6 separate regions of the Homo sapiens genome follow, and regions 1, 3, 4, 5 and 6 are each linked to region 2. Evidence: fine-mapped expression QTL. A gene starts in region 2. Each other region holds a variant in brackets. All regions are shown on one strand. Distances are from middle to middle. Region 1 overlaps PHACTR1 (phosphatase and actin regulator 1). Region 2 holds the start of TBC1D7 (TBC1 domain family member 7). Region 3 overlaps PHACTR1 (phosphatase and actin regulator 1). Region 4 overlaps PHACTR1 (phosphatase and actin regulator 1). Region 5 overlaps PHACTR1 (phosphatase and actin regulator 1). Region 6 overlaps PHACTR1 (phosphatase and actin regulator 1).

What was found. PIP is the estimated chance that this variant, and not a neighbour inherited with it, causes the effect. A credible set is the group of variants that fine-mapping cannot tell apart.
Region 1: its variant is the best candidate, but not a certain one, in a credible set for the expression of TBC1D7 in whole blood (TOPMed, PIP 0.57).
Region 3: its variant is the best candidate, but not a certain one, in a credible set for the expression of TBC1D7 in whole blood (INTERVAL, PIP 0.74).
Region 4: its variant is the best candidate, but not a certain one, in a credible set for the expression of TBC1D7 in hippocampus (GTEx, PIP 0.62).
Region 5: its variant is the best candidate, but not a certain one, in a credible set for the expression of TBC1D7 in nasal epithelium (TOPMed, PIP 0.51).
Region 6: its variant is the best candidate, but not a certain one, in a credible set for the expression of TBC1D7 in cerebellar hemisphere (GTEx, PIP 0.60).

The regions. Positions count from the first base shown.
Region 1 is chr6:13,248,606-13,253,836 of GRCh38, reverse strand. All of the region lies in intron 10 of PHACTR1 (phosphatase and actin regulator 1), which reads right to left. Among named protein-coding and RNA genes, the nearest start is that of TBC1D7, 77 kb to the left of the region's middle. The variant C/T (reference allele first, on the strand shown) is at 2,708.
Region 2 is chr6:13,326,965-13,331,268 of GRCh38, reverse strand. It overlaps TBC1D7 (TBC1 domain family member 7), which reads left to right and starts at 2,732. Exons shown (of 8, transcript NM_016495.6): 1 at 2,732-2,973. TBC1D7-LOC100130357 (TBC1D7-LOC100130357 readthrough) reads left to right here and starts at 2,732. Exons shown (of 9, transcript NM_001318809.2): 1 at 2,732-2,813. It overlaps LOC124901261 (a long non-coding RNA gene), which reads right to left and starts at 2,654. Exons shown (of 2, transcript XR_007059457.1): 1 at 2,371-2,654; 2 at 1,412-1,544. RefSeq lists an enhancer at 2,387-2,893 and a silencer at 2,527-2,916.
Region 3 is chr6:13,220,209-13,225,439 of GRCh38, reverse strand. The region is part of intron 8 of PHACTR1 (phosphatase and actin regulator 1); the gene reads right to left. LOC105374933 (a long non-coding RNA gene) reads left to right here. Exons shown (of 4, transcript XR_007059456.1): 4 at 1,462-2,479. Among named protein-coding and RNA genes, the nearest start is that of TBC1D7, 110 kb to the left of the region's middle. The variant A/G (reference allele first, on the strand shown) is at 2,795.
Region 4 is chr6:13,286,312-13,291,542 of GRCh38, reverse strand. It overlaps PHACTR1 (phosphatase and actin regulator 1), which reads right to left. Exons shown (of 15, transcript NM_030948.6): 15 at 3,706-4,480. The coding sequence ends at 4,465. The region is part of intron 8 of TBC1D7-LOC100130357 (TBC1D7-LOC100130357 readthrough); the gene reads left to right. The region is part of intron 3 of LOC100130357 (a long non-coding RNA gene); the gene reads left to right. Among named protein-coding and RNA genes, the nearest start is that of TBC1D7, 40 kb to the left of the region's middle. The variant C/T (reference allele first, on the strand shown) is at 3,197.
Region 5 is chr6:13,279,137-13,284,367 of GRCh38, reverse strand. PHACTR1 (phosphatase and actin regulator 1) reads right to left here. Exons shown (of 15, transcript NM_030948.6): 13 at 806-946. All of the region lies in intron 8 of TBC1D7-LOC100130357 (TBC1D7-LOC100130357 readthrough), which reads left to right. LOC100130357 (a long non-coding RNA gene) reads left to right here. Exons shown (of 5, transcript NR_160971.1): 4 at 2,815-2,939; 5 at 3,212-5,211. Among named protein-coding and RNA genes, the nearest start is that of TBC1D7, 47 kb to the left of the region's middle. The variant GACAA/A (reference allele first, on the strand shown) is at 2,774.
Region 6 is chr6:13,266,860-13,272,090 of GRCh38, reverse strand. All of the region lies in intron 10 of PHACTR1 (phosphatase and actin regulator 1), which reads right to left. TBC1D7-LOC100130357 (TBC1D7-LOC100130357 readthrough) reads left to right here. Exons shown (of 9, transcript NM_001318809.2): 9 at 4,256-5,231. Among named protein-coding and RNA genes, the nearest start is that of TBC1D7, 59 kb to the left of the region's middle. The variant A/G (reference allele first, on the strand shown) is at 3,001.

The DNA.
Region 1 (5,231 bases), 78 kb after region 2:
ATGCCTAATCACTGCCACTGCCCAATGTGGAGGCACAGATGTCCACGTCCATGCAGCTGACCTCCCGCAGGAAAGGAGACTGCTGGTGGACCCAGGATACACCCACCGAACATGCCCACCACTGTGGGCATGCTTAGGCTCTGCTGAGTCTAAAGCAGGTCTTTTGCTGAGATTCAGATGGTGGTGGACATCCAGATTTCCTTTTCTTAACTGAAGGCTTACCCTAGGTATCACTGTACTTATTGTCCTTACTTCTCTAAGCAGTGTTGCTTCTGATGATTACAGAACTGTGGGGCAAGGACAAAGAGTGATCAAATAAAGAGAGGAAGTTCTGGTGTTTGCTATAGAGAGGGACTGTCACAGGCAATATTGTGGTTAGGTTGATATGCACAGCCCAGACAACAGAAAAATGTCATCATTCATTCATTTATTCACAAAGTACCATGGTTCTAGATTTCTCCAATGCCTGTGCTTAGTTGGGCCTCAATAAACAACACATGCACCCACCAATCATTTTTCAAAGGTAAGCAAGGGATGAAACGTTAAAAATAGGCAACAAGGTGCCTCCTTCCATGTCTTTCTCTGACTGCAACACGTGGATTCCTCCTAGGAGCTACAGAACATGTGCAGCTCATGTGTTTTAAATGTCACCCGCAAAGGGCCAATCTCTCATTTTGGGGCGATCATACTTCCCAAGGAGAGGGCTGAGGATAGAGGGTGGGGAAGAAGCCAGGAGACGGGTGGCAGGAATCCCGATCCTTTCCCTCCTCATTCAGTGGGGCCACAGCTATTTTCCTTCCAGCTGTCTCCCAAAGTCTCTTCTGAACTTGTTTCTGGAAACAATAACAACTCAAGTTCAGATGAGATCTCATGCTATTTAGAAACCTGGAAACGAAAACACAAAAACCCCAAGGAATCTCAGATGCTCAAGTGGAGGGGGGTTTTGGCTGCAATATTTTGCTAAGTTTTCTATAATTCTCCTTTAATAAAAGTCTCATTTTCCCTACCTTTCCTGACCCATGGTCCATAAATTTAAACATAAAGCTTCATTTTTAAGCCAATAGCCTTGTAGCCCAAAGGAATGGTATGAATATAGATACTCTCATTAATCTCTAAGTGTTTTCCTGCGGCCGATACTCTTTCACAAAATACATTTTTCTGCAGATGTGACACAACAACAAAGAGACCCCTCTCCTCTCCCCCAAAACTTTTTTTTTTTTTAATAACAGCAGCATGGCAGATTTTAAGAATGTCTAACCAGTGTAGATTTGTATTTTTGCATTCTTTGAAAATTGGTTAATTATAATGAGATCAGGATAGATGGAATTTTAATAATGGAAATAATGGAATGAGTTATTTATCCAGGAAAGGATCTATTTATATGGGAAACGGAAAGAAGGAAAAGAATGGAAAATGGAGAGTCAAATGGAAGTTTCAAATAGACTTTATCCTTTTCTTTTTTAGACTTTTTTCTTTTCTTTCTTTCCTTTTTCTTTTTTTTTTTTTTTTGAGACAGGATCTTGCTCCGTTGCTCAGGCTGGACTGCAGTGGCACGATCTTGATTCACTGCAACCTCTGACTCCCAGGCACCTGGCTAATTTTTTTTTTCTATTTTTTTTTTTTTGTAAAGGCAGGGGTTTGCCATGTTGCTCAGGCTGGTCTAAGCGATCTGCCCTGGGCTCAGGCGATCTGCCCACCTCAGCCTCCCAAAGTGCTGGGATTATGGGCATAAGTCACCGTGCCTCCTGGCCTTTTCTTTCTTTCTTTCTTTTTTTTTTTTTTAAGGCAGGATCTTGTTCTGTTGTTCAGGCTGGAGTACAGTGGTGCAATCACAGCTCACTGTAGCCTCAAACTGCTGAGCTCAAGTGATCCTCCCACTTCAGCCTCCCCAGTAGCTGGGACTATAGGTGTGTGCCACCATGCCCAGCTAATTTTTAAATTTTTGTAGAGATGGGGATCTTGCTATGTTGCTCAGGCTGGTCTTGAACTCCTGGCCTCAAGCAATCCTCCTGCCTCAGCCTCTCAATCCCCTTATTATATATATAAATTTAAATGATTTTTCACTAATTCTTCAGCTAATCTACTCAATGGCTTGAGAGAGAGCCCTTGAGAGCGCAGATAACTGCTTTCAAATAGGAGACTCAAAGAGAGGCTGAATTTAGAGCTGGTATCTGCCATAGGACTGTCAGAGCTCAGCCTGGCACACATTAGTCCGTGTTCTCTTCCCTTCCTTATGGTTTTTTGTTTTATTTTCTCACATTCCGGTCACATCAAATACACTCAACACACACATGCACCATGAATACATCCCCACCCTCCCCTATATGAGGCCAGACAGACATCAGAGACCACAGCGCCCCCAGCACATGGGCAGGCAGTTTCTTGATGCTGAAATGCCCCAGCTGGAGGCCGGTGAGAACCTGGACAGATCCTATTTGCAGCCCTGCACCCGTGACCGTAATGTCCCTCTCAGGGAGCACCAGACAAACCAACTCCTGCAGTGAAGATAAACACCTGCCTCCATCCTGAGGGAACGACTGATTGTGTAACGTTCCCCTCAGTCACAGGAGCCATCTCCCCCTTCTAGGAGAGCGCCCGCCTATGGCCAGCATCCCACCCGATGTGTCTCTAACAAGAGGTCACTGGGAGGCTGAGTGTGCCTGGCAGGCAGAATCCTACCCACAGCAGACAGGGACACACAGCCACT[C/T]GGGGCCCTGAAAGCTGCCCTTCTCAGGTGGCTGCCACTCATGGGAGAGGCATGTGGACGATGCACAGGGACCACTGTCAGTAGCTCCTTTCACTGATCAGAAGATTGATTGTGTGTGTGTGTGTGTGTAAAATGGATATGTTTTCTTCATACAATAAGTGTCATGTAGAGGATTTGTCAGCCTCTCTTCACCACAGTGTTACACACATCCCAAGCATATTCCACGGTTTTGCAATTTGCCAGAGCTCTTGCCACATCTCTTCCTATCTGTGTAACACTCCATTTGTGCACCACCTGTCTTGAGGATAGACCTGTCTTGCGCCCAGACCTGTCTTGCGCCCAAGGAGTCATGTTTTAGTATCTGGCTCTTACTCGTTGGCGACCCTCCTTCCAGCCCCCACCTTTTCCTGCAGGACTTGGAATCTAGCTTCAGCTGCAAAAACAGGAACATACTTCTCACACCTGCTGATATTTATTTTCAAGCTAAGCCTGCATGGCATGGCTGTGGCCTTCCTTTCTTAAGGACAACATACATTTTCTGCTTACACAGATTCCTTCTCTCAGTCTGTCTGCACAGCCAGCCCCTTCTTATCTGGCCGGCAGCTGAGCTGAGCTGCTTTCAATGATACCTGGTTGTCCTTGAAGTAGCTTTTCTAACTGCTCAGGTAATAAATCAAGTTTGAAAAACTGGACCGTATTCCCAGCATAATCTGTATGCTATATGATGCTTCACAGGCGGATCTGGACTAAGAAGTAAAGGTAAATGGGATTATTTTGATGATTAGAGTAATGAGCACAAAGGAAATCCCTATGTGTGTGAGGATGAATTTAGTTTCTTTCTCTAATGGAGATATTTCGGGCACATGCACTTTCTAAATAGATCTAGGATCAGCACTGTGAGAGGAAGGCCACATTCTCTAATGTCCTCAGTCTAGGTCCTTAAATGTCTCATTTCTTTTTTCTTCAAAGGGCCAGATAGTAAATACTTTGGGTTTGTGGGCCATACAGTTTCTGTTGCAGCTACTCAACTCTGCCATTATGGTGTGTAAGCAGCCACAGAGAGCAGGTAAATGAATGAGTGTAACTGTGTTCCAATAAAGCTTTATTGACAAAGACAGAGAGTGGGGTGGGTTCAGTCTGTGGGCCACAACTGGTGGGCCCCTACCATGGAGTGTCACCAATGTCTGAAAACTATTTCCTTGAAGCATCAGCCAGTGGAGCAGAACCACATAAATGGTCATAACTTACAAGACGGAAATTATTTTGGTTTCCCAATGAAAAATGAAATAGGTGATTCTTTAGTCACCATACTTTTTTTTTTTTTTTTTTTTTGAGACGGAGTTTTCTCTGTTGCCCAGGCTGGAGTGCAGTGGTGCAATCTTGGCTCACTGCAACCTCCGCCTCCCAGGTTCAAGTGATTCTCCTGCCTCAGCCTCCTGAGTAGCTGGGATTACAGGCGCCTGCCACCACATCCGGCTAATTTTTGTAGTTTTAGTAGACATGAGGTTTCACCATGTTAGCCAGGCTGGTCTTGAACTCCTGACCTTAGGTGATCCACCTGCCTTGGCCTCCCAAAGTGCTGGGATTACAGGCATGAGCCACCACGCCCGGCTTAATCACCACACATTTTAGTGTAGTTCATACCCCTGACCAGAAAAATGTAATCTTCTGGGGCCTTTAACACACTAGACCAGCTGTCCCCAACCTTTTTGGCACCAGGGACTGGTTTCATGGAAGACAATTTTTCTATGGATGGGGGTTTGGGGGCAAGGTGGTTTCAGGGGTTGGGGTGATTCCACCTCAGATCATCAGGCGTAAGTTAGAGTCTCATAAGGAACGTGAAACCGAGATCCCTCACATGCACAGTTCTGAGAATCTAATGCCGCCACTGATCTGGCAGGAGGCAGGGCTCAGGCAGTAATGCTCACTCCCGCCACTCATCTCCTGCTGTGGGGCCTGTTTCCTAACAGGCCACAGACTGATACCAGTCCACAGCCTGGGGGTTTGGGCACCCCTACACGAGCATGGCCAAAAGGCTGCAAAGAATAATGCTGATAAGCCACGAACAGTTAATCAAACCTTTAAAAATGGTACAGTTAGGAACTGTGGCTGGCAAGGGAGGACGGAAGACCTAACTTCTCCTCCTCTCGTTCTTCATCATCCTTATCACTCTCAATAAAATATCTAGAAGACATTATAGCTTATGCATTGGCTTTGCTTAGTTGGCACGCGATTTTGATGTTTGCAGAGTGCTTTTTATGCCAACTTTCTCTCCGCTGTGGCTTCCAGTCTTCTGTCCCTTGCTTGTGCTTTAGCCCACACATGCAGATTAGATTTTTGGTAGCTCTGCAGTCAGATCAGAGCTGCAGGGATGTGGCTGCAGCTGTGAGTTCCTCCACTTACGGCAGCTAAAGGCATGCTTCTCCCAATATGAGTTATTGCCCCGTCTACTAATTGGCCTTACAATGATGATTTATCTCCTCTAACAGGGTCTCTCACTTTGGGGCTTTGCGATCACCTCAAC
Region 2 (4,304 bases):
AAAAAAAAAAAAAAAAAAAAAATGGGATCATTGCTGTGAAAGAAGGAAAAGGTAGAACTGCATACAGGGGATTGGGATTCAGGTAAAGTGTTGCAATTTTAGGTAGGGTGGGGAAAGTAGCCTCAGGGAGGGGACATTTGATTGAGACTGAGGTAAGTGAGTGGGCCATGTGGCTAGCAGAGGATAATGTGTTTCAGGCAGAGGGAACATGAGAAGGTCCCAAGGCAGGGGAGTCACTCATAGTAGCTGAGACTGAGGTACAAGGAGGTAGACCATGAGAAGTGTTGTAAGCTGTTGTGAGCACTTCAGTTTTTCCTTTGAGAGAAATGGGGAGCCACTGAAGGATTTTTTGCAGAGGGATATTTTTAGATTCATTCTGGCTGCAGAGTTGACAAAAGTCTCAAAGTGTTATCTCTTAGGGAAGCTTCCACATATTCTGTTATCAGCTCATCAAAAAACAGAATGGAGGGCAGTTGAAGGCACCCATATTGCTGTCACCATTCAGTGAACAGCAGTCTTGAAAATTGATTGTATGAATTGGAGTAATCTTCATACCCAGCTAAATTAGAGTCCAGAGATGAGGGAGAAGAGAAAGCAGTTGGGGCACAAAGTGCCTGCCCAGGAATTATATTGAAAGCCAGCTGCCAAGGTGACCTGCTATAACCTGAAGACCAGTTTCACCCAGTAGCTGCTGAAACGAATTGCTGTAACTCTAAGACTAGTTTTACTTACCACCTTCTCTCACAAATTAGAGCTTGCCTGTTCCTAAAAACTTTGCTTAGGGTCAATGAGCTATCTTTCAAGGTAATACATAACATTTCTCTAATGAAACCTCCAACCATCTCTTTGTTGTTCTGAAGACCACCCCAGTCTGTGTGTATGCCCTGAACTGCAATTCTGTTTTCCCAAATAAAATGATTTAGAGACTCATCTTTGCATTTTTAATTGATCTTGACACAGCCAATTCACATATATCCCTACTGTGCCACATGCCAGGCACCATGCCAAGCACTTTACATACTTTCTCATTTAACCCTTCCCACCTTCTATATAATCACCATTGGTGATGATTTTATTTTATTATTAATATTTTTTGAAATGGAATTTCTCTCGTTGCCCAGGCTGGAGTGCGGCGGCACCATCTCAGCTCACTGCAACCTCTGCCTTCCGGGTTCAAGCGATTCTCCTGCCTCAGCCTCCAGAGTAGCTGGGATTACAGGTGTGTGCCATCACACCCAGCTAATTTTGTATTTTTACTAGAGACAGGGTTTCACCATGTTGGCCAGGCTGGTCTCGAACTCCTGACCTCAGGTGATCCGCCTGCCTCGGCTTCCCAAAGTGTTGGGATCATAGGCATGAGCCACGGCGCCCAGCCAGCACCGATCACTTTTTAACACACTACATCATTGACTTATTTATTTTAGTTTTTATTGGATCTGTCCTCCCACCAGAATGTCAGTTTCACAAGGTTAGGGATCTTTGCTTCGGTAGCTGATGTATCCTGAGTCCATAGAACAGCGCCTGCACACAGTAAGTGCCCAGCCCTGGTGATGATTTTAAAGACAAGAAAAGGCAATTATAAAAGTTAGTGACCGGCCCAAGGTTTAGATGAAGTAAATGGAACTTGTGTAAGGTAACTTGAAGAACTCTGCTTACTCATGTGAACACTACCCAAGGAAGGTTTAGTACCCCAGTACTGAGGAACTAAAGATGGTGGTGGTAAGGGAGTGGGGAGGGGCATCAGTGTTTGAGTTCAACCACCACACGTTTCTTCATTTTTAAGTTCTGTCTAGCCATTATACACACATTTGTCTGCACTATAACTGGACTTCTGCACTGTTGATAGTCCTAAGTTTCCTTCAAAGCTTGGCATCCGTGTGGCTTATTTGGTAGAGATTTGAACTTTCAAAGGGACGATACCCATCATTGGGGATTTCTCTCAAACCCTGGCGGTTTAAAAACCTACTTGGGCACTGCTGCTCAGCCAGCCCGAGGACCAGGGAGGCAAGCACAGAAATAGAAAGCATTTGTAAGTGTTAGTAGCTACTTTAAAGAGTAACTCTGTTCTGTTAGACCTACTAATAACAAATTAGGAGCTTGCATTTAGCACATCTTTTTTTAAAAAAAAAACACGTTCATTTTTCTCCTATGTTATAGTGTTTTACCTGAGAGGCTGAATATACTAAGACAATGGCCAAATCTAATATAAAAATAGACCTCCAATCCACAACCTGCAGCAACCTGCCCAGAAAACCAGTCAGTTACCTACAATAACCAACCCAGGGAGCCTGCCTGCTCTAAATCAGACTTGCACTCCTCTGCCTGCCTTTTTTCTTCTCATTCGGATGGTCTTCATCTATTCCCACATACCTGGGGTGGGGAGGAAATTAGCAAAAGCAAAACCCGGGTCCTGCACGCAGGCAGCTTAAGTACGGCCCTAGGGCTCGGGTCTTCCCTAGGCAAGAACCTCGAGGGCCGGACACGGGAGTGCAACCCAGGCACGCGCCTTCGGATGGCCAGAGTAAATGGTCGCGAGATTTTGCGGGGTAGCAAGGGGCCGGGTGCCCACGGCGGGAGAAACTACACTACTCTGGAGGCGAGCCTAGCCCTTCATCCCGTCGGGTTTCACAAACGAAGCCAGAGCTTCCTGGAGTGAGGGTGGAGCTTCCTGCCCGCGCCCTCTGCGCATGCGCCCGCCCGGCGCCCGCCCGGCGACCTGGAGTTGATGTCACGTCCGGCGGCGGCGGCAGCGGCAGCGGCAGCGGCGCTGAGTTTTGTCTCCCGGGCCGTCTGGGCGCGCGCGGGTGTCCCAGGTACCCCGCCGCCTCCCTCCTTCCCGCAGGACTCGTCCCTCCTGGCCCTGGGCCCCAACGGTGCCCGCCTGCCCGGCGGTCGGTCAGCGCACAGGGCACGGCTTCCTCTGCTTCTCCCGGACCACTTAGTCTCAACCCGGGTGTGTTTGCACTACTAGAGGTGAAGCATCCATCATAGAGAGAATGGGACCTGGGGTCTTGGACCAGGGTGTTTTTACTTTTCCCATCAGGTGGACGCGCATGGGCAGGAGATATTATTTGCAGCATTTCCTCCTAGAGGACGCCTTTGTCATTGTAGTGCAATCTAAGAATGGGTGTCCTTAGACAACAGGGACCGACCAAATCGTCATGCAGCTGTTTGGATGCTTTAAAAAAATAAATCCCCACACTCATTACGCGTTTTATGCTGCTGACTTTTTTATTTTTAAGACATCTGCTCCCGAAAGCTCAGAGCCCTTTAGCATTTCATTTTCTAAACGAATCCTAATCTTTCCTGTGACTGAATCGGTTCAGAGGATATCTTTTCAATAAGGAAGGAAGCCCTCCCCTGCTCACTGGGGACGTCGCAGGGTTTTTAAACCTAAAGATTTACTCTTTTGTGCACAGACGCTGGAAGCATTTGGGTGAGGCAGTGCAGTGCTTTTTGGGAAATGCATCAGATCTTTTCTGTTCTTGAAACGCCAAATCTAACTTGGTCTTTTTTTGGATGAATTACCGCCAGTATTATGAAGGTTACTGTGAAGGAACTTGAGACCACTGAACTTTTTGAGTTCTTGCGGTAGATTTTAAATCGTTTTTCCGTCTTCAACTCTGACTTTGGGATCACTGTCAATTGGCTACATTCTTTACCCTCTTCTAGTTATAATTTAATGCGATTTATTTGTTGTGGGTTTTGAATTTCGATAGCTACACTTAATAGAATTGTGTTTAAAAGAAAGATAAGTGAGGAACTCGTGGCTTTTTACTTTTATATAACTTAATTTTTCATTTTACAAAATGCCCATTTAAAAAAAAGTAGCTAAGCAAAAGAAAGGAAATTAAAATCATCTAGAATCCTACTATCTAAAGATAACCATTGCTAACATTTTGGAATAGAGTGTTAAGTTTTAAAATACATGAAATTTGTAAAAAACAAAAAATGAAATCATAGTGTATACTGTTTGAGTATAATTTGCTTGACGTATCTTGCCTGGCTTCCATTTCACTTATTTTTTTTCTTTGCGCATTTATAATAGCTACAGAATGTTCTATTGTGCTAGGCACTCATAGGTATAGTGGGAAACCTAGTGCATAAACCTTGTGCCATCTATTTTATCAGCTCAGAGAACTTTTAACTTATATCTTGGTTTTTAGCCAAGATGCATAGGTGAGATAGTTGCAGAACTGAGTTAAAGGAAAAATTTAATATTGGGTCCTATGCAAGGGTACATCATATTGAAAAGGTGGAGAACATCATTGAAAATTATTCTAATTCTTGACTCTTTGTTTCTA
Region 3 (5,231 bases), 110 kb after region 2:
CCAGGTACCATGCTACTGGGTTTGTCAAATAGGGATTGGTCAGGTGGCCAATGACTGCCTGTTGGGGCACTAGAGAAACAGCTAAAGACTTCTGGGGCCAATCAGGTCATCTTCTTGATGTGTGAACCCTAGCATGTGCTTGAATGCCTAATTTTCCTTAAGACTGAAGGAGGTAGTTTTCCATGAAGCTAGGTGAATCCACCAAAAGAATTGTAAAACATTCTATTAATAAATATCCACTGAATGCCAACTATGCATCAGGAAGAGTCCTGAGAAGAAGACAAATGCCCCGATAAATCCACCCCTTTTGTAACTATGGAGAACCACAGGAGAGCAAGAAAAGAAAGGAGAGTATAGAAGTTAGCTGAAAAGGAGGCTGGGAAGGTTAATATGTGGCCTCAGTTTGGGGAGTCCAGACAGATCTGAGTCCACGTTTTGCCACTTACTCTCTTCTTGACATTGGCCAAATTGTAGGGCTGGTGCATGTGAAGTCGCCTGTTGACACGGCCTCAGATGAGACCCTCACTGGTTATTGACAGACATGGCCTTCCAAGTGGTTTCACAGCAGGCTCAGTTTCAGTCCAGTCTCCAGAGCTGTCGGAGCGGCTTTCTAAAACTCGGATCTAAGAGCCTCACCCATGAGAACTTTGAATGCCTCTCAAGTCTACAAAACTACTGCTCTAGGAGTGATGCAAATGAAAATTCAGTTAACGCATCATGAACTGTACTATTTGAGGCAAAGAACCAAATCAACTCAAATGCAGCATCTTATGACACGTGGCCTGTGCCCTGCTGCTGACAGACACCCAGCAGAACATCAGTCACTGTAGCACGAGTTTTTTTTATAACATAGTTATTACCTACATCTGCTCTAAATACAGGCTCTCATTCCGAAAGGAAGGTGAAAACCATTAGCCTGCAAACAGTAGCTTAAACATAATGTCACGTGCCTGCCACACCCTACATAATTTGGCCCAAATTATTAACCCAGACTCATTCCCACTTCTTTACTTCTGTCTCCAAACAACTGACCCCTTGATCACCTGCAACTATGCATTCAATGCTCTTGGCCTGGAATGTGTTCCCAAACCATCTTCACCTCATTCATTCCTATTTCTCTCTCAATACTTGTCTCAGTCAGTGCCTTGCCTGTGTTTATGGGAGAGAGTCCTCAAGGGTGAAAACCATGATCATCTGTTTGCTTACTATCTTCTCTTCACCACCCAAGGCTGTAGGCTCCTTGTCGGGCAGAAGCCACATCTTCTGTTTGTATCTGGTTCCTATTACTATGCTTAGTGCCTAGTATCGTGCCTGACACAAAGTAGATGCTCAGTAATTGTCTATTGCTTTAGCCGAATGAAATAAATATGGGCTGGAATGACTGACATTTAGATATATTTGTAAGCAGTCAGCAAAACATGTTCAAAAGGCATTAACTAAGGGGTTTTTTTTAATTTTCAGGGAGGCATCTAGTGGTGTGCTGCAGGGATGTGGTGCTCTGGACTTGGTTAGCATCTTTATCAATGGCAATGACAAAAAGGGCATCCTCAATGAATAACTGAAAGAGTTGAAGGAGAGAAGGAAAGAAGGGAGAGTGAATAGAGAGAACATTTACTAAATGTGTAATTTTCACACACAGTGTTGCATTTCACCTTTCCAGCAACCGTATGGGACAGGTGCTGTTCTCCCCATTTTATGAAGCAGGAAATTGAAGCTCTGAAAGGGTAATGAATAGGCCCACAAGGACACAGTTGGTAAAGGAAGGGCTTGAAATTTGAACCTACTGTATTACAAATTCTGCATGCAAAAGTTGAACTGTGATACTTATGAGATGTGTCCTTTGATAAAACACACACCTGACTAAATGTACCCAGGCAAGATGGAGGAAATATCATACCTTGTCAACAACGTGTGTAAAAAATGGGCATCATTATTTATAACTATTTTAAGTCCTACTAACTAGGGTAGGTAATAGTATTCTACCCTGCCATGACCAGGCCACTCCTGGGGCACTGAGTTTAATACTCAGGGCGTTCAGGAGACCCATCTATTCACCGATTCACCTTGGCTGCTTTTGCACCAAAATAGAAGAGTGGAGTAGTTGCAATAGAGCTGAAAATATTTACTATCTATCTGGTTCCTTAAAGAAAAAATTTTCTGTGCCCTGATCTGAACCAGTGTTTTCTAAACCTTGATTATACTCCCACCTCCTTAATCTTTTTTGTGTATGGCATCTTTGAAGTCCATTTACACTATTATTTACTTTGTAATTTTTTAAGTCAGTACGGTATTTTTTAAAAATTTAAACACTATTGTAACCTCATCCTAAGCAAATGATATCTTTGTAATAACAGGTTTTGTATGTAAATCATATAGGTTTATAACATGTTAAGATATATTTTTATATTTGTAATACATATATTTTCAATATTGATATATGCATAAGTACATACAATATTCAATAAAATATTAAAACTAATAAAAGGTTGTCCTAAACTCATTTTCTGTACCACCAATGATGCAGATATCACAGTTTGGTTAAATGTTGCTCTAGACCAGGCTTTTTCGACACAGGCATGACTGACATTTTGGGCCAGATAATTCATTGCTTTGAGGGTTGTCCTGTGCATTGTAGTACACTTAGCAGTACCCCTGGCCTCTGCCCACCAGATGCCAGCAGCACTTCCTCCAACTGTGACAGCCAAAACAATCTTCAGACATTGCCAAATGTCCTCTGGGGGACAGGGGGACAAAAATCATCCCAGATTAGGAGCCACTGGCCTAGAGCATCCAC[A/G]GTGGCTTTGCTGCTTGCTGCATTCTCAGCACTGTACCATGTGAGTCTCTTCAAAAGCCACTTAGGTATTAATTATCAGGAATCTGCAGCATTCGCTGAATGATGAAGAACTGTCCAGATCCTCTCATGTGAGTTCCTGACTTATCAGGTGTGAGGCTGGCATTCTGGGGGCTGCAACAAGATGCTGATGCTCGTGGGGTTCTACTTACTCAGTTACTTGCACTCCTGCCTTCAGTTCCTGAGCTGTTAGTTACCCCATGAATGCAAGAGCTCCAGGCTGACGCTTGAGTGAAACAGGTTTTCTCATTCTTTGCCCAGATCAGTGATTTACTGAATGACACTCAGTGGTCTGAGAGAGTCACATCTTCCAGAGTACCTATCAACAGGAACTGCTGACTCGTGTAATAAAATCTATTCTAGATCACTCACATCAACATTCTTTGGCATTAAGCATTTAGTTGGCTTCAAATTCAAATGGACTTCATTGCACATGGGTTGTGTTCACCCTCCCTCTTCCTAAGGGCTAACTAGCTTCTAAAACCGCAGGTAAACATGAGGAATCTCATCCTAACCTCCGAGATGGAGTCTTTGTTCATTCTTTTTTTTTTTTTGAGATGGAGTCTCACTCTGTCACCCAGGCTGGAGTGCAGTGGCGTGATCTCGGCTCACTGCAACCTCCGCCTCCTGGATTCAAGCAATTCTCTGCCTCAGCCTCCCAGGTGGCTGGGATTACAGGTGCCCACCACCACACCTGGCTAATTATTATATTTTTAGTAGAGGCAGGGTTTCACCATCTTGGCCAGGCTGGTCTTGAATTCCCAACCTTGTGATCCACCTGCCTTGGCCTCCCAAAGTGCTGGGATTAGAGGCGTGAGCCACCGTGCCCGGCCACCTTTGTTCATTCTAACTGGATTATTACAGATGATGATGGAAGTTAACATTTCTAAATGCTCACACTGTCCCACGTGTTGATTCACTTAAGCCTCACAAGGATCCTAAGAGATAGGTACTATTGTGATCTTCCCGTTTTAGATGGGAAAATGCAAAGGCACGTGGCCAAGGTCACACAACCAGAGGGGTGCAGACACTGAATTCAGGCCATCAGACTACAGGACCTGATCTACTGATGTCACTATACCACTGCCTATGTAGAAGTAGTGGTCCCCCAATGGTTGCAAACTTTAATCTTCTTCCAGACCCTCCCCCTCCCCACCCACCCAGTCCACCCTCTATTCTGCTGTCAAACTGGTCTGATCATGTAATTCTCCTAATCAAAAGAGCCAGGAAAGGCCTCATTGTAAACTGGATCAACTCCACCCTCTACAGCATGGATTAAGAGGTGCCTCACGATCTGACCCTCCAACTCCTTTCAATCTCATTTGTTATTATTCCTTACCATCTTCCTAGGGTTCCAGCCATATCAGACCACTTGCCATTGCCCAAGTACCCTGTGGACTTCCCTGCCTCCTCCCTCTGCTCCTGCAGTTGCTCCGCCCCAGAACTCACCCTTCAGATTTTGGCCTAGAGAGAGCATCCTGCCTATCTTTCAGGGATGACTCAAATCTCATTTCATTTGAGCATCCTTTTCTGATTTTTCCAATGGAAATCAGTCCCTTCTCTGCACATCCATAGCCTCTGTTCCCAGCTTTGTTATAGCATCTGCCACATTATGTTATAATTACAGGCTAAGCATTTACCCCCCACGCCAATTAACTGTGAGCCTCTCCAAGACAGAGGCTGATGATCTTCCTGCCTCTACCTCTACATTGCACATGTGTTTGGAACTGATGGATAAGTTGATCAAATATTTGAATTGAAGTCACACACAATCAGAATACACCACATTACATTTTCAATTACTTAATTTGCTAAAATTAGGATCCCTGACCCTTAGATAGAGTCTTGCTGTTGTAGGGAAATTATCTTTGTGAAAGGAGCATTAGGATTTTTGGAAATAGTGCTCTAGAGGTCTTTTTCCTAAGAAGACAACTCAAGGAGCTAAGGCACAGAGATCTATGCAAGCAAGAGCACATTGGTACCGTGTGGCCTTCATTCCAGGACTGTGTCTGCACAGAAGAGGTAACAGAGAGAGCTTATGATATTCCAGTTTCCAATTCTATACTCACAGGCCGTCAGCCCACTTTAATTCAGACTGTCCAAAGTTAGGCTGCTTTGTAAGGTGACGTCATTAAGCTTGATGAGATCTATATGGTTTCCTCTTATACTAACATTCTATAATGAATTTAAACAAAGACCAAAGGCCTTAAATTATTTTCCAAGGGAAAAACAGATGAATTTCTGCTCCCTATCACCTAGGTAGCACCAAATAATGTCATTTTCTTGACAAATGTAATAGGGATGAACATGCAGAAACTGAACAGCATTCCATGATATTCACAAGATGTTGGACAGATAGATGCACCATTTCGGAATATTT
Region 4 (5,231 bases), 40 kb after region 2:
CACGGCACGAGGTTGCCCTTTACCAGAACAGCCTTTCTACGCTGCTGGACGAAGGATATGCTACCCAGCAACGTCCCCCACCTAAAATGCAGCCCCTCTGCTTCCGCTGAAAGCCTTCAAAGACAAGTAGTAACCAGAAGGTTATGCAATGCAGTTCTTTGCTTTATACATCAAATACTCAGGCTTCTCAAGAACGGAGATAGAGGCCAGGCACGGTGGCTCACACCTGTAATCTCAGCATTTTGGGAGGCCGAGGAGGGTGGATCGCCTGAGGCCAGGAGTTTGAGACCAGCCTGGCCAACATGGTGAAACCCTGTTTCTACTAAAAATAAAATGCAAAAAAAAAAAAAAAAAAAATAGCCAGGTGTGGTGGTGCACACCTCTAGTCACAGCTACCCGGGAGGCTGAGGCAGTAGAATCACTTGAACCAGGGAGGCGGAGGTTGCAGTGAGCCAAGATCTCCAGCCTTCCCAGATCGTTAAAAGGACAGTTGACATTTTAGATATTCTTATAAAAATGTTGAGGAAGGCCGGACGCAGTGGCTCACGCCTGTGATCCCAGCACTTTGGGAGGCTGAGGTGGGCGGATAATGAGGTCAAGACCAAGACCATCCTGACAAACATGGTGAAACCCCATCTCTACTAAAAATACAAAAATTAGCCAGGCATGGTGGCGCGTGCCTGTAATACCAGCTACTTGGGAGGCTGAGGCAGGAGAATCTCTTGAACCCAGGAGGCGGAGGTTGCAGTGAGCCAGGATTGCGCCACTGCACTCCAGCCTGGCGACGGAGCAAGACTCAGTCTCAAAAAAAAAAAAAAGTTGAGGAAAAAAATCCTAGTACACAAAAGTCTTCTAGAAAGTTAATGTATGTGCTACAATACTTCCTTCCCCCAATAATACCAGAGGAGACATGCGGTTGTCCCGTATGTCCACTCACTCTCACTATGTATTTTGCAGATGAGCTGACCTCTCCCATTCCTGCAACCTCCCTTTCCCAGTCAAAGCATTTTTGGTGGTTTCTGCTGCTGGTTGATAACAAAACACACAAGAGTCAAGAATTTTTTTTTTTTTTTTTTTACTTTTTTTTGGTTTGTTTTTAAAGAAACTGCATACATCATCAGAGACAAACAATAATTTAAATACCATGCAGTTTCTGTATGTACAAAACCTAGGCCACAGAGATCCAGTTTAATTTGTATTCTCTATTTACATCGTTTTCCTCATACAGCCATCATCTGTTAAATTAGAACCTGGGAGATTAGGGGATTGACGGTCACCACACTCACTCCTATACAAAGACAAACTATGTACAGACACCCAGGAAGCAACTGGAAAATGCAACCGGTCTGGGGATTAACAGACAGATAGGGAGAAAAAGTCATTTAAGGTGACCTTTGCCCACCGGCTGTGCACAGGGAGAGCCTGAAATTCCATTCATCAAAGCAACACACCACGATTTTCATTCGGCAAATAAAAATACATGTTCATAAGCGGGAGAAAAATAAACCCAGAGCTTTTCATCACATGTACCGTCACATTGTTTGGTTTCTCTAATCTGACATAAAGGCTAAAGTTTTAAAAGTTTTACAGTGCTTTGAGGGCCTTTAGAGATGAATATATCAGCCATTTAAAAAAAGCTAGTTGGCTGATGGCGGTCTCTTCTGTCACTGATTGATTGGGGGCGGGGGCAGGGTTGGGCAATGTCTAATCTTTAGAAGGAAGCATTTGATTTGAGACATTTCACATTTTTCCTCTCACGCTAATCCAAATGAAAAAAATGCTCAACTGGGAATTTACACACATAAAATAAACTTTGACTTGCCAGCTACAGCTTTTTCAAAAAAGAGATGCATTTTAAGTCATCTAGCTCACCTTTTTATTTTTTCCCTTAATTAATGTCAAATTGTCATCTTGGAAAGTAACACAAATTGCTGCAGTTGTCATGACATTGTAGTGAAAAAAAAAAAAAAAGAAAATTGAATAGGTCTCTAGAAAGACCTTAAGGTTTTAAGAAAGGAAAGAGACAGCAGAAGGCCCATCCTGCAGGCCACAGAGGTTGCTGAGCCTGTGTAAGAGCCACTTAAAACGGGCTTGAAATAGCCCATCCTGAAGGCGCAGGACCTGTCAATGGCAGGGGAGGTGCACCCCTCAGTCTGAGCAAGTGACTGCTGGAAAGGAGGCCCTGCAGGAAGAGCAGTGGAAATTGTGTTCAATATCTTCCATGCACAAAGTGGACTGCAACATGAGGGCACTTTGGGCGGAAACCCTGGGCTGTCTGCTGGCTGGCTGCAGGGAGATCCGCTTGGGCCTTATATCCCCAGGGAATCTGAAGGGCCAAGAACTAAGGCCAGCAGAGAAGCCATGGGCCTATCATGGGAGGAGTCCGGTCAATGGAATGAATTTCCTTAGGACTCGCTCCTGGCCAGGGAGGACCATCATGCCAGGGCACCGCGTGTGCCAGGAGCCCAGCTGCAGTTAGAGGAAGTTCAGACTCAAAGCCTGGCCGGCAGGCAAGTCCACCTGGAACACGTGTCCGCCCGCCCGCCGTAGAGAAGTTCAACGAAAGAGCCCTACATCTTTCGTCATACCATTTGCACATTCAAACGTCAGTAAGCCTTTCGGGAAGACTGTGTTTACAGCCACACTAAAATCCCGATCACATTTTCCCTGAACAATACCTCTCCCCACGGCAGGAACTATTCAGATTCAAGAGTTAAAAAAAAAAAAAAAAAATAGGATCTAGTGATGGCATCCTCCTTGGGTCGGGCAGAGGCGTGCTGGCTCCAGGTGGCAAGGCAAAGCTGCAGCTGGAGGCACCGCCCAAAGAGCTGCCCTGAACTCTCCCCAGCAGTTGTTTGGCTCCTGGGTTAGTGCCTAGATGGGAGCCGTTCATGCCTGCAAAAAAATGCAATGGCCTCGTTGACGGGTGTGCATCCTAAGAGTAACCTGCTCCCACAGGGTTTGTGGTGGGGAGACGACTGGTTAACTTTTTGGAAAGGCCAAGCTGGCGTCTTTCTAAATGGCATGTGTGGTGGAGAGTTCCACCACCTAGAAAGACTGGAGTAACGATGGAGTCACTCCAGAAGGTGAGAGAGCTCTGCAACTGAGGGCCTGCGAGCTCTGTTATGAAGGAAATCGAAAGCTGCAATGGGCCTCGTTAGGATGCTGTTAGGGTTTAGGAGGGTCCTGGCCTCAT[C/T]GCACACCCTATCCTGGGTGTCCCAGTCAGAGACACACCCACAGTCACGCTCCCTGGCATCATGAGGGTAGAGGGAGGAGCTCTCTGGATCAACTGGAGCAGGAAGGGGCACTGTGGACAGGTGTGGCTGGTGTTGGCCTGATTCTGGCACATGCCCAACTCTGGGGCTCCTTCACAGAAACTCTTCAGTGCAAAAAAAAAAAAAAAAAAAAAAAAAAAAAAAAAAAAGAGAAGGCCATGGAGTGGTTCCAAGTCCCTCAGTGGCTGGAAAGCCAGTCCTACAGGAGTGGTTTCTGGCCTGCATGCACTGGTCCTATACACAGAAGCTAAGAACTCCCAAGCCATATAATCAGCTTCAAGGCGCACAGAGAAAATAAATGTCAGCCAAGCAGTTTCTGACCCCACAGGATTCAATAGGGTCCTCCCACTCAGACTTATAAACAGCACAGGAGTACCTTAGCAATGGCTGTGTGTGTGCGTGGGTCACTCATGACACTGGACACTCTGGACACAGTTGGGTTGATTATTTGAACTGAGCATATGACATCTTTCCCCTTCTAAACCAGAGCTTCCTGAAAGGCAGCTCAGCTCAGGCAGAGGGAGCAGGATGGGTGCTCAGTGCCAGCCTTCGTAGCCAAGAGGCAGCCAGACTCCCCCAGAAATGGGCCCTTCCCTTTTGTTCATTGTGTGGGTGGTGGCTGAAAGGAGGGAAAAGCCAGGGGCAACTGAGAAGTGTTCACTCCTTCTTGGCATCAACTTCAAAGGGCCCCCAAACCAAATGTCATGTCTGGAGCCAGTACATTTGGCCAAGTGTAGAAGTCCAACCAGATCATTAGCTTTGCACAGTACCCCCAAAACAAACCCACCCCTTCAGCTTTCTTTGGACTCAGATGACAGACACTTGTGAGGAAGAGGTTTGCTGGAGACTTCATGAAGGTAGTGCCTGCTGGGCCTGGCTGGAGAGGACAAGGACCGTTCCACCTGCCAGACAGTCTTCAGTCAGGGCCCTGCTGGTGCCCTTGGCACTGCCGGGGGTTGGGATGCATTTTGGTGTCAGAAGTGGGACCAGCAGCTCGGACCGCCGAGCCATCACTTTTGCGTTTTCACACATAAAATCCTGATTGTGTTTCCTTGATTTTTCTTCTTTTTAAAAAAAAGGCAGTTCAGAAGATTTACATCGTAATGGGGAAGTGAATAAATACCAGCACTTATGGTTCTTATAAATTTATGTTTTGAAGACAGCATAGCACTCAAGAGGAATTCGACTGTTAAGGTCGGTGAAACCTAAGGAAACAAACAATTACATCAAGACCAAGGGGCTGCCAAAGGTGCAGGATTCAACAGTCCAATCTCCCATCTTCAGGGAGGTTCTTGACCGTGAGAGGGAGGTGCGAGCTTCCCACCGTCATCCCCACAGGAGTACCACTGAACACACACCTGGCTTTGAAAGTTTCATCTGGGGCAGCCCTGGTGGCCTCCACCTCCTGCCATCAGCCTGGATCCAGCAGCAAGGTGCAGAACCCAATCTGTGTCTCTGAGTCTCTAGACTAAATACTTGCTATATCCTATTTCTCTAAATGTTCCCCCCAAAAGAAAGTCAGAATTAAATCAATGGCTCTGTTGCTAACTAGCAATGCAACCTTATATAATCCTCTTAATCACTCCATGCCTCGGTTTTCCCAAATATCATCATGATGCTGGACTGTCAGGGAGAATGTCAGGGAATAACAGAAGTGGTCCACTTTGGAAGTCCCGTGTGGATGTGGTATTTTGTTCAGGTTTGGCCTCTGCTGACTGGTTGCAAATTGGCAACAATCTTTTCTCCTTGACCTAAGTTTTCACAAAAACCCACCTTGGGGTCGTTGGTAGTCTGGTGCTTATCAGACCTTTAGTTTAAATGAGTGAAACTCAGACTTTGCAGAAAGTTGGTTTTAGCCCGGGCCATCTGTGTTCCACTTCCTCGTTTCAGTAACCTAAAGTGGAACCGCATGCCTGCCTTCCTACTATCTTCCCTCTCATGGCACCCTCCAACCCA
Region 5 (5,231 bases), 47 kb after region 2:
TTTTGTATTTTTAGTAGAGATGGGGTTTCATCATGTTGGTCAGGCTGGTCTTGAACTCCTGACCTCAAGTGATCTACCCGCCTCGGCCTCCCAAAGTGCTGGGATTACAGGCGTGAGCCACTGTGCCTGGCGCACAGACTACATTTTTAAAAAGGCCCTTAACCCTCCAGCTCCTCATGGTGACCAGACTAGAATCAGAGAGGATTACCAAACAGAGGTTCATTCTGATACCTTGTCTGGTGGACAGAGAAAATGATTTCTCATTGGCATCACTGCTTTTCCTAAAAAACAAACTGAACCTCAGATTATTCTTTTTGTTTTCTAAATCGGCGAGGGGCTAGTGCAGTGAGATATGTTTTGCGACGTCTCTTTGATTTATGCCCTATTTCCCTCCTGGGGTTATGCGTCTACTTTGTCTTCTCTTTTGGTTTGGTGAATCCCTCGTTGGATGCCGGCAGCACCATCCCCTATACGGAAGGGCTGTGATGAGCCTGGAGCCTCTTGCCTTCACCTGTCTACACCTATCCAGTGCTATTCTCTTTCTCTGGGCACAGCCTCCCAGGCTGCTGCTCCTCCTCCTGTAAAATGGGCACAGTATTATGTGCCTTGTGTTTTCTCCGATTCAGCAGCCTTTCCGCAGATTATCTGTGGCCCCTGGGGAAAGGTGTTGGGGTCTCAACACTCCATTATGGGGACTGCGGCTGAGGCCTGGCTGCAGGTCTCCCTACACGCTCCCCAGCGGTGAGCCCAGCGAGACCCAGCAGACGGTCCTGCCTCCCACTCTCCAGCACTCCCCTCTGCTTACTTTGTCTGCAGCGGTGAGGCGGGTCCACGGCTTATCTGCCCTGCGGTCATAGTCCTGAGCGTCAGCCACCTCCACGTAGTCACTGAAGCGGATGAGGATCTTTCTTTCCCGAAGCTCTTCCACCGTGGGCCTTTGACTGAGCTGCAGGGAGGGAGAGAGATGGACCCAGTCAGCCAGAAGGGTTGACCATGGCACTTGGTCCTGTCTGTGAACTTGCAGGTGTGGAAAATAAGGTTCAGTGAGGCGATGGATGCATCGCATAGTGAGTGAGGGGCAGGGGCAGGGGGAGGGCCAGGGTGGGGGGACCCAAGTCTCCTGACTCTTGGGAGTGGGACGTTTCTAGGTCCTAAGAGAGAGCTTTGTTATCCCTTACATACCCTCTAGGCCAAGCTCTTTTTTTTTTTAAACTTAAAAAAAATCTTTTATTATGTAAATTTTCAAAACAAGGAAGGAGACTAATGTAATGAATTTGGTGTATTATCACCAGCTTCAACAATAATCAACTCTTGACTACATCCACATGTAGATTGCTTTGAAACAAATCACAGGCATCATATCATTTTATCTGTGTATATTTCAGTATAGAATATATAAAGATTAGGACTTCAAAGCATATTCACAGTACTGTTTTTACACCTATACAAATCGATAGTAAACAGTCTCTATCTTCATAACATTGCTGAGTCCCAGTCATTACTAGAAGCTTGTCTTTCTGTTTGGCTGTGGGCGCCTGTTGTGGATTTCTTCTTATCTGTCCTACTCCCACCAGGTGACAGGGACATTCTACAATGATTCTGTCTTATTTTGGATTTGTGAATCCACATCTGTGTCACATCGAGTGCTTTCTGCAAGGGGGTTTTGCAGTGCATTTTGTGTGGGTTTTAGATGCAAAAAAGCGTATGTGCAAATGGTATGCAAACTCTGGGGTATGCAGGGATGGGAATCTGCTGGCTGAAGAGGTCAGCCCAAACATTGCTGACGGCCCTCTGCAAGAAGTTCAAGGGGAAGGTCAGTCAACAAATGCGGAGTTGAGTAAGTACAGAAAAAGGCCACATTTATGCCAAGGGAGACTCAGGACCAGCCCTTTGGATGGTGCATGATGAAGGACTGCAGGAATGAGGGATGAAGCAAGTAAAAGGAAGATTCGTATGTATTTTGCCATCTCCCGATATTAGCCATGAAGACCCTTCCTCTACTTTAGCAACATAAGGCTGACATTTCTATTATCTCTTCCTGTCACCAGGTTTATTTCTCCTGGAGCAACACAGTTGCTCTCTTTAAGATGCTGTCAAATGATGTTCAATCAATGCTATTTAAAAGCAGTTTTCCCTTTGAGCCCTAGACTCTGTGTAATTCTATTACTAGAAGACACTATCTCATAGAATCTTGCAACTCAGGCCCGTAAAACAAACACAATGGAGTCCAAACCACCCTGGCAGTTTCGACTCTGCAACAGGCAGCTTCCAGACACCCGTGGCTAGTGCGAGAATGTTCCAACTTGCTCCCACGCTGGCAGAGCACAATTAGAGGATGGCTGGCAGGTATCAAATAGAGTGGTGGCACACCCCGGACAGGGCCAAGGCAGGCCTACAGCTCCCTCTCAGCCAAAGGCAGGAAGCTCTGGGGATCAGGGGCTCAGCCGCCTCTGGTGCCGGCCCCCCTGCCTAGACTGCATGTAGGCCTCCCTTGGCTTTCTTAGGCACGACAACATTCTGGCACCAGTGTGGGCCTGTCGCGGGAACCCACAGGCTTCCCAGGCTGTTATGGCTGTGGTCACCGTAAACAAAAACAGCAGTCATCCTGACTCCAAAACATGTTCTCCACAATGTGAGTGCAGGGAGATTTTGTGCTATAATTAAAATACATAAAGACATGCAACATTTGCCATATTTACTCCAGATAAACAGACTCCTACTCAGAATCCTGTCTGTGTTCCTCAGGACTTGCTGGGTTTACCTCAAGGGGCCA[GACAA/A]AGTGTTATTTTCTTTTCTTCATTTTTCTTTTTTTAGACGGAGTCTCACTCTGTTGCCCAGGCTGGAGTTCAATGGTGCAATGATCTCGGCTCACTGCAACCTCCGCCTCTTGGGTGCAAGTAACTCTCCTGCCTCAGCCTCCCGAGTAGCTGGGATTACAGGTATGCGCCACCTTGTCCGGCTAATTTTTGTATTTTTAATAGAGATAGGGTTTCGCCATATTGCCCAGACTGCTCTCGAACTCCTGATCTCAAATGATCCGCCGTTCTCAGCCTCCCAAAGTGCTGGGATTACAGATATGAGCCACCGAGCCCGGCCCAAAGGGTTATTTTCTGAGTGCACCCATGATGTGAGAAAAGTTGTTAAGCCCTGACTTTCAAATTTCTCTTCCTGGAAACTGACCTGGATTTTACTAATGTCCTATCTATGGCAGAGTCTGGAGTGAACCGAAGACTAAGCATAAATGCTGCAGGTCAGGGGCTGTTTCTTATGCCTGAACATCGCGGGGCCTTGGACACCGTCTTTCCAAATCAAGACAGCATAGAGCACAAGTGCTCAGAGGGAATGAGCGAGGATGCAGCTGGCTGCTGCCTCTCAGAGTCACAGTTGGTGCACGGACCCCAGCACTAACAAACGGCCACCAGGACGCTCCTCTGTGTGCATGGGCTCATGTCCCTGACCACGAAAGGCTCAGAAGACGCACCTTTGGCCTGGTGCTGGCTGTAGCCTTCGGGGCATCTGGAACCTGAAGTCCTTCCTTGAATGCTGCAAAAATAATCTTTGCAGCCAAAGTCAGGCCCGCCTCGGCCTCCCAAAGTGCTGGGATTACAGGCGTGAGCCACTGCGCCTGGCCGCAGGCATGTCTTTTTTAAAAAGACAAAGCATGTAATTTTTATATTAGTCTCAGTTTGGTCAGAGAAAATGACTGGTCTGTTGCTATCAGCCTCAGTTACTACGCTTTATTTTTTATTTTTCTTACTAGTGCATTACAGTTAAATAGAATTTTATTGAAGAAGTTATTGGGCTGAAGGCAGATCACTGTAAAGCAGCCCCCATCACTGGCATCTGGTCTCAGTGTGATAAATGCTCAAGAGGAGAAGAACCTTCACAGGGCCAGGAAGTGATGATGTAGGTTCCCTACCTGCCGGAAGGCGCCACATCTCTGCCCGCAAAAGCAGATATGGAAGTTGCCCCTCTGTTCTCCAGTCTCTCTCTTAGAAGCAGTTATCCCCTCTCAAGCTCCTTATTTCTAACCCCCCCAGCCAGTCCCAGGGGAGGGCAAATGCTAAAATTCCAAGGCCATTTCCCTGGGAGAAGAAAGGAGAGGTGAGCAGGAACAGAGAGGCAATTATTTGATTGTGGAGACCCGCAAAACCTATGAACTATTTGGGGTCCCCATCCCTAGTGTCACCTACCCTAGGGAGATGGGTGTGGAAAGGAAGACTCTTTACTCGCTCATTACCAAATCATGCAGTTAGTCAAGTTCTCCGCAAAATCATATCAACTTTGTTAAGAGATAGGAATTAAATAAATGTCTAAGTATTTCTCTGTGACCGTCTTTTAGCAAGCAACCTTAAAACTGGGTGAATTTTGGGGATCCAGCAACCAATTCTGAAAAATTTGATGAAAATCTGATTTAAACAACTTTTTTTTTTTCTAAGTGTCTAGACCTTTCTGTATCAGAAATGAAAGTTTATCACAGTGTCTTTTTCGAGCCCCAGTCATTTCAAGGACACGATGAGAAAAAGCTAATGCATCTCTCCTGCTCTTCTCACTACTCAAGCTCAGGAAAAACTGCACCCTGCATCCAAAGAGTGGGTGGGCTTAAGGATGTAAAGGGTCCAACCTTGACGGGTGGGACAGCGACTGGCTGGTGAAGTCACTTAGCTCTTGCTCTAGTCTCCACCAGGGTGACCCCAGCCAGTCGTCTGGCCATTCAGGCACTTGTTTGTCCAGCTCTTGCTAATTGGGTTGGCATTTGGCTTGTCACCAGGTATTTGGGATGCTCGCAGGGAAAGTGTGGAGAAATACAAACCATCACCTTAATAATTGGTATGATATTTCAGGATCTCTGAATTTCTTCCTTTGTGTGATATTTCTGGAGAGAAAAATCCACTAATAAACCTTTTTAAAATTAATATTAATGGGCCTCTTAACTGTAGCTAAGATATGAGAGTATCTTTCTCTCAAGATGGTCACTGTAGGAGGCTGATTAAAAACACTTTGACTTCGTCAGACAGAAGGGAGTATTGTATCTTGCATGTCATCAATTAATTAAACTTTTCAGCATCATCCAAGAATAGCCTTAACAATGCGTTTATTATTAAAGAGGACACTCATGTGGAATGAGATGCATGCGAGGCTACAGTGCATTGCCAAACCATCTATTTTTGGGGTTAAGACTATATTAAAATTCCAGTTTTATGACTTTAAGCTATGTGCTTCTCAAACAT
Region 6 (5,231 bases), 60 kb after region 2:
GCAGGAACAGAGACATCTGTACCTTTGAAGCTTTTGGTAATTATTTAACAACCTGCAATTATCCGGCATTCCACTTCACCCATTGGGATGAGGTGTGTGAGAAACTGAATCATTGTAGAAGAAATTTTAGGCTTCTCAGACTCCTCTATTGGGATCTAAGGGGTAGAAATGATGCTCTCCTAGTTGAGGAAGTTGCAGTCCCTCCTTGGGTATTAGAAACTGGTGTCTATAGTCGGCAAGATGTTCACATCTTGAAATCTAAAGAGAGATCCTAGAGTGAAAATATCAAGTCAATGAAGTCTCCAAACCTAACTACAGTTGGTCCTCTGTGTCCATGAGTTCCACATTCTTCGGTTCTACCAACTGCTGACGGAAAATATTAAAAAAAAAAACAAACAAAAAACAATAGTCTAAAATTATTGATATAGCATTTATCTTGTATTAGATATAAGTAATTTAGAGATGATTTAAAGGATATGGGAGGATACACATAGTTTTTTGCAAATACTACGCCATTTTATACAAGGGACTTGAGCTTCCTTGGATTTTGGTATCCAAGGGAGTCCTGGAATCAATCTCCCAGAAAGGACTATATTTTTAATTCAAAGCTTGTTGTCATTTGTGTTTTTGTTTATTGTGCTGGGCCAGAATCAATTGCTTCTGTGACATTCCCGTGTCACCACCACACATCCTATATAGGGAATGGGCTTCAATGTCTCATATAGTTTGGATATTTGTCGCTGCCCAAATCTCATGTTGAATGGTAATCCCCATTGCTCGGGGGGAGGCCTGGTGCAAGGTGCTTGGATGGGGAGCCCTCATGGCTTGGTCCTAGCTTCTTGACAGTGAGTTCTTGCAAGATCTGGTCATTTAAAACTTTGTGGCGAAACCCCGTCTCTATTAAAAATACAAAAATTAGCCGGGCATGGTGGCACATGCCTGTAATCCTAGCTACTTGGGAGGCTGAGGCAGGAGAATCGCTTGAACCTGGGAGGTGGAGGTTGCAGTGAGCCGACATTGCGCCACTGCACTCCAGCCTGGGTGACAAAGTGAGACTGTCTCAAAAAAAAAAAAAGAAAAAAAAAAAGCATGTGGCAACTCCCTGCTCACTCTCTCTCTCTCTCTTGCTCCTGCTTTTGCCATGTGATGTGCCTTCTTCTCCTTCACCTTCCTCCATGATTGGAAGTTTCCTGAGGCCTCCCTAGAAGTCAAGCAAATGCCAGGGCCATGCTGCCTGTATAGCCTGCAGAACCATGAGCCAATTAAACCTCTTTTATTTATAAATTACACAGTCTCAGGTATTCCTTTATAGTAATGCAAGAATGGCCTAATACAATGTCAGAGAAAGGATTTTTGGTCATATACCTGCTTATAAAGCCTATAGCACCCTGAAACTGTTGGAAATTGCATTCCAAAGTGTTTTTAAGAGTATAAGAACATTTTCATATTTATTATTCCTTTTCAAAATATCCCTGTGGTATAATATAAAACATATTTATCTTTGACCCAGTTCCTATCACAGAGCACCTAAAACCCCTGGAATTTCTGGGGTGTCAGGAGTGTATTTTGTTACTTGGAATGAGTCCCTTTGGATTACACCAGAGTTTGTGCTAATTAGGTGACTTAGGATGGGGCTGGCCACCAGAAAGAACACATAGTTAGAGGCCTGGAGCTTTCAGCTGGGAAGCAGGAGGGTGGGGGGCTGGAGGTGAAGTTCTATGGAAACTCTTAAACCACAAGATTAGATGAGCTTCCAGGTTGCTGACCATGGGGCTGGGGGGCACTGTTGGGAGGGTGGCACCCAGAGAGTGCACAGAAGCTCTGCCTCTCTCCCCCAATACCTTGCCCTGTCCATCTCTTCATCTGGCTGTTCATCTGTAACCTCTGTAAGAAACTGGTAAAGTAAGTGTTTCCCTGAGTTCTGTGAGCTGTCTTAGCAAATTATTTGAACACAAAGAGGGAGTTGTGAGAACCCCAGTTTACAGCTAGTGGGTCATAATATAGGTGACAACCTATGACTTGGTATTGGCATCTGAAGTGGGGGCAGTTCTGTGGGACTGAGTCCTTAACCTGTGTGATCTGACACTGTCCCAGTAGAAAGGGTCAGAATCAAATTGAATTACAGGATGTCCAGTTCATGTCTGCTGGAGAATTGCTTGGTGTGTGGGGAGCTGCCTCACACAGAAATGTGTGGGGTCACAGAAGTGTGTTAAGTGTGAGAGTAGAGTGAAAAAAAGTTTGTTTTTTTCTTTTTTTGAGACAGAGTTTAGCTTTTTTTGCCCAGGCTGGAGTGCAGTGGTGCGATCTCAGCTCACTGCAACCTCTGCCTCTCGGGTTCAAGCGATTCTCCTGCCTCAGCCTCCTGAGTAGCTGGGATTACAGGTGCGTGCCACCATGCCCCGTGCTAGTTTTTTGTATTTTCAGTAGAGACAGGGTTTCACCATGTTGGCCAGGCTGGTCTTGAACTCCTGACCTTAGGTGATCCACCTGCTTCAGCCTCCCAAAGTGCTGGGATTACAGGCATGAGCCACTGCTCCCAGTCAAAGTTTGTTTTTTCTCTTTGCAATCCCATTAAGACATTTTTCATCCCCATTGACAAGGGCCAGCTGTGTATTTGGAAATTCACAATATTAGGGGGTCTAAATTTGGATGCAGTAGTCTTTGAATTCTTTCTAAAATAGCATTCTCACGCTGCAGGAGGAAAGCGATGATTATGCAACTGAGTGAGCCGGTGTCAGAGGTCTGGAATGCAGCTTACCAACTCCACGTTGAAAGATCTTAACAGCTCTTTCTCACCTGCCAGTTTATTTTCCCTAAAAATACTTGCTGCTTTTATAAGAGATGCGCAGCCACTTTTATGGAATGGTTTGGTAATACCCAGGCTTTAAGTCAAGCTAAGTTTTGGGGGCAGAATGTTTTGAGAAAGCCTTGTAAATGTGGGTGGCGCCTACATTTGGAGATCAGGCCAGTGTTTTGGAGTCTTATGCGAAGTGTCTGCAG[A/G]CTACATTGTTCCCTCATCAGCTTTGACGGTGCCATCCCATTGATCTCATTAGTGAACATGACAACTGGCTCTGTGGTGGCCTCCCCTTTTTTTTATGGGTGGTCATATTTGGAGGGGGCAAAACTGAGTGACTAGACTCTGATCAGAGAAAATTCTGTTATTAACTAGGCTGCTTTATAGTCAAACACTCATAATTTCAAATGAGTTCCTCTGTTTGTGTTTCATTTCTCTGGAAAGCGACTGAGAACATCAAGACTAATCATAGCTATAACATGCAGCTGAGCCCGCCAGAAGGGCCTGTGCTATAGTTAGTTGTTTTGACCTTGAAAATGAGATTTGGGAGGAAAATGATATGGTGGCATTGTAAGGACAAAGCACTAAGTAGCTCAGGAGCTAGGAGGTTTGGGTTCTAGTCCAGGCTCTGCTCTGAACCTATTTACCTCAGACAAGGTATCAGATCCTGCTAGGCCTATGCTCTTTTCTCTGCAAATCATAAATACTAGTTTAATAAGCTAAGGCTGATTTAATGCCTATAATGTAAGGGTATGGTTCCAAGCACTGTACATATGTTAGTTCATTTAATCTTTATCTTAAGATTTTTAACTGAATTCCAGTTGCAAAGTCTCCTTTGCCCTGGGACGTTACATATTCATAGATCTGGGGATGAGGATGTGGACATCTTGTGGAAGGGTGGCCAATATTTTGTCTGCCATAACTATGATACTTTACTAGTCAGAGGTTGCAAACTGATGCCTGGTGCACTGGATTTGACTCTATCAGTTCTCTTTGGCATGCTCAGAGGTTACACTTTTTTCTCTTTTTTGAGACAGAGTCTTGCCCTGTCACCCACGCTGGAGTGCAGTGGCACAATCTCAGCTCACTGCAACCTCCACCTCCCAGGTTCAAGCGATTCTCCTGCCTCAGCTTCCCGAGTAGCTGGGATTACAGGTGTGTGCCACCACGCCCAGCTAATTTTTGTATTTTTAGTAGACATGCGGTTTCACCACGTTGGCCAGGCTAGTCTCAAACTCCTGACCTCAGGTGATCCACCCACCTCGGCCTCCCAGAGTGCTGAGATTACAGGTGTGAGCCACTGAGCCCAGCTGGTTATACTTTTTTTGAGCCTGAATGCCTTTAGACAGAGTGTGTGATCAAATTAGCCCTCTCCCCAGGCCTCACTTATGTAATACAGGTGAGCACGCTCACATCTGTCCTGCTTTTTTTTTTTTTTTTTTTTTTTTTTTTTTTTTTCAGATCATTCCTGGACCCCCGAGGGCCTCTGAGTTTGAGACGCTGGCTGAGATCAAATGATAAGAATTCCAATTTTTGTTTTCCTAAGTCTTTCATCTGCTAATCTACCCAACATGAACCACGGGCCACATGAAGGGCCAGACACATTCTTAAGCGGCTCACAGCCTAGAGGTGCACATCTGTGATTACAATGTGCAAGGTAAAACTGGATCAACAGTTTCCAAGGACTGGCATGTAATAAAATATCCTCAAAACAACAAGCAAGTTGGGCGTGACTTAGACTTTCACTGCCCATGTAGAAGGCACTGTACATTCTTGCAGCATCTCAGTTGGCCAGCAAGAGGTGAGTCAGAAAAAAACCATTCAGCAGCCACATGGAAGTGGGGCTCACTGGGCACAAGGCAAAACTGTGAAGAAGATAAAGTGTCTGTGGTTCTGCATTGACTCTATTCCCTGGAGTCCTCCCCTCTCGAGTTCCTAGAATTATGTTATCACTCTTGCTCTATCTCATTCCTATCAAGACCTGTTTTAGAAATGGGTGCCACAGACTCAGTTACATTCAAATGTAAACCCATTCATTCATTTAGCAAGTTACTTATTAGTGCCAGTGCTGTGTCAGGTTCTACATTAGGTACCAGAGTACAGTGATGAGCAAAACCAGTCCCTGCCCTTCTGGAACAGAGAAGACTGGAAGAGGATGGGGGTAGCCATTAATCAAACAGTCACAGAAATGAGTGCAAAATGTAGCTGGAGTAAGGGCTTCCATGGTGAGGCACTTGGTGCAGGGATCTCTGGATCTGACCAAATCAGGAGGTCAGGAAAGGCTTCCAGGAGGAAGTGACACTGTGCCCAGAGCTCAGGGATGGAAGAAGGATGCTCCTTCTGGGCAGAGAGTAAGGAGAGAAGATTGGTGGGAAGGAGGGCAGGGGCCAGATGCCGTGGGTGTGATTTGGATCTGTGTCCCTGCCAATCACATGTT